Linked DNA regions of Homo sapiens. The protein of the gene in region 1 purifies or fractionates together with the protein of each later gene. This does not show direct contact. Each region holds a gene or a part of one and is shown on either strand. Other genes may lie near its edges.

What was found. The genes of interacting proteins can lie anywhere in the genome.
Region 2: the proteins of TACC3 (region 1) and VASP purify together in Homo sapiens (co-immunoprecipitation; 3 studies listed by BioGRID and IntAct, with this or other methods). This does not show direct contact.

Annotation. Positions count from the first base shown.
Region 1 is NC_000004.12:1,734,776-1,738,749, reverse strand, and holds part of TACC3 (transforming acidic coiled-coil-containing protein 3), read right to left. Parts: intron 3,478-3,974; coding exon 3,425-3,477; intron 3,020-3,424; coding exon 2,916-3,019; intron 1,510-2,915; coding exon 1,422-1,509; intron 1,153-1,421; coding exon 1,048-1,152; coding exon of another isoform or gene 1,036-1,047; intron 403-1,035; coding exon of another isoform or gene 358-402; exon of another isoform or gene 1-357. UniProt on the Homo sapiens protein: Plays a role in the microtubule-dependent coupling of the nucleus and the centrosome. Involved in the processes that regulate centrosome-mediated interkinetic nuclear migration (INM) of neural progenitors.
Region 2 is NC_000019.10:45,513,979-45,517,478, reverse strand, and holds part of VASP (vasodilator-stimulated phosphoprotein), read right to left. Parts: intron 1-3,500. UniProt on the Homo sapiens protein: Ena/VASP proteins are actin-associated proteins involved in a range of processes dependent on cytoskeleton remodeling and cell polarity such as axon guidance, lamellipodial and filopodial dynamics, platelet activation and cell migration.

The sequences.
Region 1 (3,974 bases):
GTCCAACCTTAGCCAACAGGGGAACAACACAGCAGTAGGGCTACCTGTGTCAGGAATAAGAACCCCTTCCCCTCCCTTGTTCAGGTGTGCTCTTGCCATTGCTCCATCTGCGAGGGGCACCCTTTCTGCAGAAAGTAAAAACTGCCTTGCTGAGAAAATTAATGTTCGAGCACTATTTCTTTGTGGCACCAGAGAACAAGCATTGTGCATTTCTAACATAAGTTACATGCAGGGGCCACCTGCCCCCGGAGCCCAGGCCTGCAGAGGAGGGGGCCAGCCACACTGTGGTCCCCAGGCCTGCTATTGGGTTACTCACACGGGCTCTGACACAGGGAAGGAGGTTGTTGGGGTACGGGGTCAGGGCCACATCACAGGCCTCTGCGGAGATGACACCTGGGGCCACTGTGAACAACACTGGTGTGGATGTTGGGGCTTGAACCCAGCCCTGCCAGCCGGCCTCCGGAACCACCCTGTCTGCACCTCCCTGGGGACCATCTGGCGACGGTAGCTCACAGTGGTGCCTGCAGACACCCAGCCCCTTTGTGTGCCTACAGCTCTCTTAGGGACAATTTAGGCCCGGAGTTAGAACAGGCTGAAGCCTGGCATGTACAGTGAGGATGGAGGGAGACAAGGCACGGGACCCTCAGATGTGGGGTGGGTGAAGATGGAGCTTCCTAAGCTGCCAGGAGATGCGTCTGGACTCGTGGGAGGGCGGGAGGAAAGGGGCGACACTCGGGCTCACGGCAGCAAGAACCACACTCACTGCTGCAAGGCCACCAGAGGCCAACGCCATGCCCAGGCCGGAGAGTCCCGGGGAGGCTGCTGGTGGGCAGCTGACTGCGGGGACACTGGGTGGAAGCCTGGACCCTCAGCGACCTGGGCAGTAGTGACAGGCCAGGGGCCGGCAGCTCTCTGCAATTCCACCCCAACCAGCAGGGGCAGGGATGGCAGGGATGGCGGGTCAGGCTGTTGGACCCCTGCCCACTGTTGGCCAAGCCCCAGAGCGGCCTGCAGGTTCTGTGGAATAGCTACTACCTGCGTCCTTACCACTGCATCCAGGTCCTTCTGGCTGTACTGGAGCAGGTCCACTATAGGTCCGGTGGACAGGGGTGGGCCCCCAGGCGCGGGAACACCTGGGGGTGGGCCTGGCACCTGCGGGAGATGGGGATGAAACAGGAACCCATTTCGCCCTTGCCTCTTACCTCTGACCTAGTGTGAGGGAGGAAAGGCCCACACAGGCCAAGAGCCTCAGACAGTGCATGAGGGACCCGAGACAGTGCGGCGAGGGAACAGCACAGCGGCCCCATGCCCCCAACAAAACCAAAGGCTCAGACCCCCAGGAATAGAAAATATAGGCCCTTAAAACAACTCGTTCCCTCAGACCACACACAAGACAGTTCAAGAGGGACTCAAGGACTTACAGGAATGTCCAGTGCTCCCAAGAAATCGAACTCCACAAGCTTGGCTTCCCGCGGACGTCCTGAGGGAGTCTCATTTGCACCGTGCATGCTGCCACCAAGCAGAGGCAGCCTCAGTCACTAGGCCCTCCCAGTGTTGAGTAGGACACAGAGGACCATGTGGACAAGCTAACCGGGCTCTTTGCTTTTTAGTTTAAAACCACTCAAGTCAGGGTAGTGGTAGAAAACGCAGACCCGCATCCAGCATGCCCGGCCTCTCTGCTGCTCCGTGCCCCCCTCCCTCACCTGCCCATCCCACGTGGCTGCTTGTCCTTCCGGGAGAGCACGGTGACGCTTCATTACCCACTGCAGGCTGAGCGGAGCCAGTGCTGCCTCATCAGGGGGCTGTTCACAGCTCAGAGCCTTTTTTTTTTTCTTTTTCCGAGACAGGGTCTCACTCTGTCACCCAGATTGGAGTGCAGTGGCATGATCTCGGCTCCCTGCAACCCCTGCCTCCCAGGCTCACCCGATTCTCCTGCTTCAGCAACCCAAGTAGCTGGGATTACAGGCGCCTGCCGCCTCACCCGGCTAATTTTTGTTATTTTTAGTAGAGATGGGGGTTCACTATGTTGGCCAGGCTGGTCTCAAACTCCTGACCTCAGGCGATCCACCCGCCTCAGCCTCCCAAAGGGCTGGGATTCCAGGTGTGAGCCACTGCGCCCGGCCATGTGTTAGGATTTGAAGGCCACACAGCCTCTGTCACACTACTCAGTTCTGGCCTTGTAGTGTGAAAGTTGCCACAATTTGCAAAGGAACGGGCATGGCTCTGTGACGATAAAACTTTACACAAACAGGCAGTGGCCAAGTCTGGCCCACAGGTGATAGTTTGCTGACCTCTATTTTTTGGTTTTTTTTTTTTTTTTTTTTTTTGAGATGGAGTCTCACTCTGTTGCCCAGGCTGGAGTGCAGTGGCGCAATCTCAGCTCACTGCAACCTCCGCCTCCTGGGTTCAAGCAATTCTCCTGCCTCGGCTTCCCAAGTAGCTGAGACTACAGGTGCATGCCGTCACACCCGGCTAATTTTTGTATTTTAGTAGAGACGGGGTTTCAACATGTTGCCCAGGCTGGTGGCAAACTCCTGAGCTGAGGCTATCCATCCACCTCGGCCTCCCAAAGTGCTGGGATTACAGGCGTAAGCCACCGCGCCTGGCCTGCCGACCTCTGTTTTAGAGGAAGTACTCTTAAAAGATTTAAGTTTAGATCTTTAATATACCTAGAACGGTGGCTGTAACCAGCAAGGCAGCAGCCCTGTGGCTGGAGGGTAGGCTGCCGTTGCTCCTGCCAGACACACAAGGGCTGCTCTGGCCTTGCTGCCCAGCCCACCCCTAGCACAGCTCCTTTCCAGTTCTGATCATCTCCCCCCGGTCTAGAAGCCTCTGTGCAGACAGCACACCTAGGAACAGCCTCCAGTCTTCCCACACTCAAGGCTTCATGCATGAGGGAGGGCCGGCGCACATACCTGCTGGTCTCGGTGGCCACGGGCACTGGTCTACCAGGACTGTCCCTCAGGAGGGGGTCGAACTTGAGGTATAAGGACTGCTTCCTCAAGGCCGACTCCTTAAACTGGGGACAAGAGGGCAAGTGATCAGGTCTGACTGCCATCCCCTAACACACACGGGGGCTAAGGGCCAGGGAGGTCACCTGCACACTCCCACCCCCGGTCACCCGCACACTCCCACCCCCGGTCACCCACAACCCTGCCCGAGACACCACCATTCCCAGCAGCACAGCGTGTCAGAGTTTCATCCTGGGCTAGGCACCAGGTAGAGAGCCCTAGAGCCCTGCCACAGGACACCACTTAGAGGAGGTGCTGCAGAAGGGGCCCTGGATTCACAGCCCGCCACAATGCCTGGGCCTGTGTGCAGCTGGGGGGACGTGGGCACCAAGGGACGCTCCGGGGGCAAGACCTGCCGTGGCTGCTCTCGGACACCCTGTGGGTGAGGCTTCGCGGAATTGCCTGGTACCTACCGAGGAAGTTCCAAACTGCTCCAGGTAATCCACCTCCGCGCCCGTGCCTAGAACTGAGAGGAGTGAATCATGCCGCCGCCATCGCCCCTCACCAGGGCCCTAAGGGCGGCGGGCTGGTGTCTCCCTCAGCACTCAGTGAGGCAGGATCATTCCAGCCAGCAGTATTTCCTCCCTTGGAGGTGTGGATGTTCGGGGCCTGACTGCTGTCTGCGGCAGGCGCCTCCTGGGCACCGCAGGGTGCTGAGCGGCATCCCCAGCCTCTACCCACTCCCTGCCAGCAGCACCTCCAGGTGTGACAACCACAAACATCTGGGGAAAGGCGGGGGCAAAACTGCTCTGGTTGAGAACTATTAGTCTTTAAAATTACCCTAGACAAGTCTTTTAATTTTTGATAATATAACTTTTGATTAAAACTAAGGGTGGAGGCTGAGGCGAGTGGATCACTTGAGCCCAGGAGTTCAACAGGGCAAAACCTTGTCTGTACAAAAAATACAAAAATTAGCTAGGCGCGGTGCTGCACTCCTATTACAGGGAGGCTGAGGCAGGAGAA
Region 2 (3,500 bases), on another chromosome or scaffold:
GCAAACACACAAACGAGATGCAAGAGACAGACGCAGAGAGAGGTGGGAAAGGGAGAGTCGGGTTGACAAAGAGGAGAGACAGACTGAAGGCAGACAGACAGATGAACAGATGGGGGAGGGGTGGGGAAAAAGGATGGGCAGACAGGGGACCTGGAGGAAGAGGCAGACACAGAAAGAGATAAAGATGGTCTTGGCGTGGTGTCTCACACCTGTAATCCCAGCACTTTGGAGGTTGAGGCAGGAGGATCACTTGAGCCCAAGCATTTCAGAGCAGCCTGGGCAACATAGTGAGACCCCATCTCTAATAATAATAATTATTATTATTATTTTTATTTTTGTTTTTGAGACAGAGTCTTGCTCTCTGTCACCCAGGTTGGAATGTGGCCTCGACCTCCTGAGCTCAAGCGATCCTCCCACTTCAGCCTCCCAAGTAGCTGGGACTACAAGCATGCACCACCACACCCGACTAATCTTTTTTTTTTTTTTTTTTTTTTTGAGACAGAGTCTTACTCTGTCACCCGGGCTGTCCTCGGCTCACCGCAACCTCTGCCTCCCAGGTTCAAGCCATTCTCCGCCTCAGCCTCCTGAGTAGCTGGAATCACAGGCATGCACCACCAAGCCCAGCTAATTTTTTGTATTTTTAGTAGAGACGAGGTTTCACCATGTTGGCCAGACTGGTCTCGAACTCCTGGGCTCAAGTGATCCATTTGCCTCAGCCCCACAAAGTGCTGGGATTACAGGGGTGAGCCACCACACCCAGTCCACAAAAAAACTTTTTTAATGAAAAATAAAAAACACAACACAACAAAACTAATAAGAAGGAAAAGATAAAGATGGAGAGACAGGCTGAGGGGTGTAAGAGGCCGAGGCCAATGCCAGTGGGGGGATGCGGGTTAGCAGAGCAGAGGGCAGGAGGGAAGACAGAGGGGCCAGAAGGAGGCCAAGAGCCCAGAGCTGCACTAGGGACCAGCCCCTGCCTGACCTCAGTTTCCCTATCTCTACGCACCCCCCTCCACCACTGCCTGCTCAGGAAGAAGCTGAGGCTTGGGAGGGGAAGTGTGAGGCCTGCAGCAGGTTGGGGACCCATCCCAGACCTCTGAGCTCTTCCTCCAAAGGGACTTCCCGCTGCCCACCCCTCGCCTGGCTCCCCAGGGCACTAGCGGCCATTCCCCAGATACTCCCTGCTCTGTGTCTGGCCTATATTGGGTGGGGCTGGGGATGAAGACACAGCAGTGACCCAGACAGCTCCGGCACCACCCTCCTGGGGCTCACAGTCCAGTGTGGGAGACACAGCTGTCCCCAGACGGTACCAACCCAGGTTTAGGACCAAGGAGCCCAGGGTCTGGGGGTACCCTGAAGGAACGCCTGCCCCAGCCTGGAGAGTCAGGCAGGACTTCCTGGAAAAGGCAACGTCTGACTTAGCCTGGGTGGGAGGTGTCAGTAAACTGGTGCAGAGTTCAGGAGCTGATATCCCCAGACCTGGGTTCAAATCCCCACTGAGCCACCTACTTCATGTGACTCAGGCACATGACCTTCCCACTCAAGACCTCTTCTTGCCTGTGAACTGGGAAAATGACAGTCCCCACCTCCAGGGCAGTGGGGGAGGGGCACATGAATCTGGGCACCTAAAGGGCTTGGTACAGCCGGGTGTGGTGGCTCACGCCTGTAATTACAGCATGTTGGGAAGCTGAGGTGAATGGATCGCTTGAGCTCAGGTGTTCGAGACCAGCCTGGGCAACATGGTGAAATCCCGTCTCTACAAAAACGTACAAAGATTAGCTGGGCGTGGTGGTGTGCACCTGTAGTCTGAGCTACTCAGGAGGCTGACGCAGGAGAATCGCTTGAACCCAGGAGGTGGAGGCCGCAGTGAGCTGAGATCACGCCATTGCACTCCAGCCTGGGCGACAGAGTGAAACTCTGTTTCAAAAAAAAGAAAAAAAGCTAAGTGCTTGGTACAGCGTCCAGCACACGCCGAGAGCTCAGTAACTGTCAACATCCCTCTCATGGGCACCACTGGGGCCCGGGACAGCTACAACCCTCGGGACCCTCCCACCAGCCCCTCTGGGAGGTTCAATCCCCTCTCCCCCAGTGAGGAAACTCAGGCCTAGACAGGAACTCAAACAGGAAGTGACTTGCCCAAGGTCACACAGGGGAAGGGGAAGCACTGGTCTCCTCCCCACCCCACCCACACCAGGCTTTTTCCTGAAATGGGGAAGTTGGTGGTCAGAGGTTTCCGGGGACAGAAATTAGACACCCCCCGCAAAGCCTCTGTCTCTAGGAGGGCTGGGGGCTGGGTGTGACACTGATGCTGGGAAGTCAGGGCAGGGAAAGTCCCTAGGCAGACTCAGCTGTGGGTAGGGACCTGGGGTAGGGACCCTCAAATTTACCTAATTGTGCCATCTCCCTCTTACTAGGCATTTCAGGTGGATCAGGGGCCTTAAGCCCCTCCCCCAAAGTCACTCATTTTATTCTCACTGCAGCTTATCCAGAGAGCCACTCATTCTAATTTTGCAGGTGAGGACTAGAGGCCCAGAGAGGTTGAGTGACTTGCCCACAGTCACACAGCTACTGAGGAATAGAGTGAAGATGTGAATTCAGGCTTCCAAGCCTTAACCACCGGGAACTGTGTGGGCCCCACCCAAACACCAGGTGCCCTTTCCAGACAAACACAGCCTCGGGGGCTGTTTCTGGCTCCTGCTGCCCCTGGCAAGGCAGGGTTAAGGCCTCGGCCTCACCCACACCTGCCACCCACACCCAGGGCCGACTCTGGCCAGGAGCCCGGGGCTGCTGCTGCCCCGCCCTGGCTGCACTTTGCTCTCCCAGGCAGCCCTGCCCTACTGAGGCTCTGGACTGGCCGGAGAACAGGGCGCCTGCTGGGTGACCAAGGGGTGGTCTTGCCCCTCTCCAGGGAACACTATACCCATTGTAACAGAAGGATCCTGTTAAAACACGAGGTGGGGCGGGGAACGGTGGCTCATGCCTGTAATCCCAGCACTTTGAGAGGCCGAGGCGGGAGGATTGCTTTAGTCCAGAAGTTCAAGACCAGCCTGGGCAACACAGTGAGACCCCCCATCTCTAAAAAACAAAACAAACTAACAAAAACCTACAAGGTGGGATGTCTCTTCTTCTTCTTGAAGGCTCCAGGCTCCTACGGAATCAATGCCAAGTTCTCTCCAGGGCCTCCGTGATCTGTGTGTCCTCAGATCTCATTTCTTCCCGCTCCACTGTCCCTTGGGGACTCTGTTCCAGACCCTAGACCTCCTACCCCCATGCTGCTCTTCCCGCAGGCCAGACACATTCCTGCCTCGGGCCTGTGTGCTGCTTCTTCCTCAGGCCTAGCCTCTCCCCACTTTCAGGTCTCTCCTTAGATGTCACCCCTTCCAAGAAGCCGTCCCTCACTCCCTTAGCTGGAAACGCTTCTCTCCTTTTCATCCCCTGCTGCACATTTCATAGCAGTGACCCCTGCCCAACACAATATTTGTCTGTCTCCGCTGCCAAAA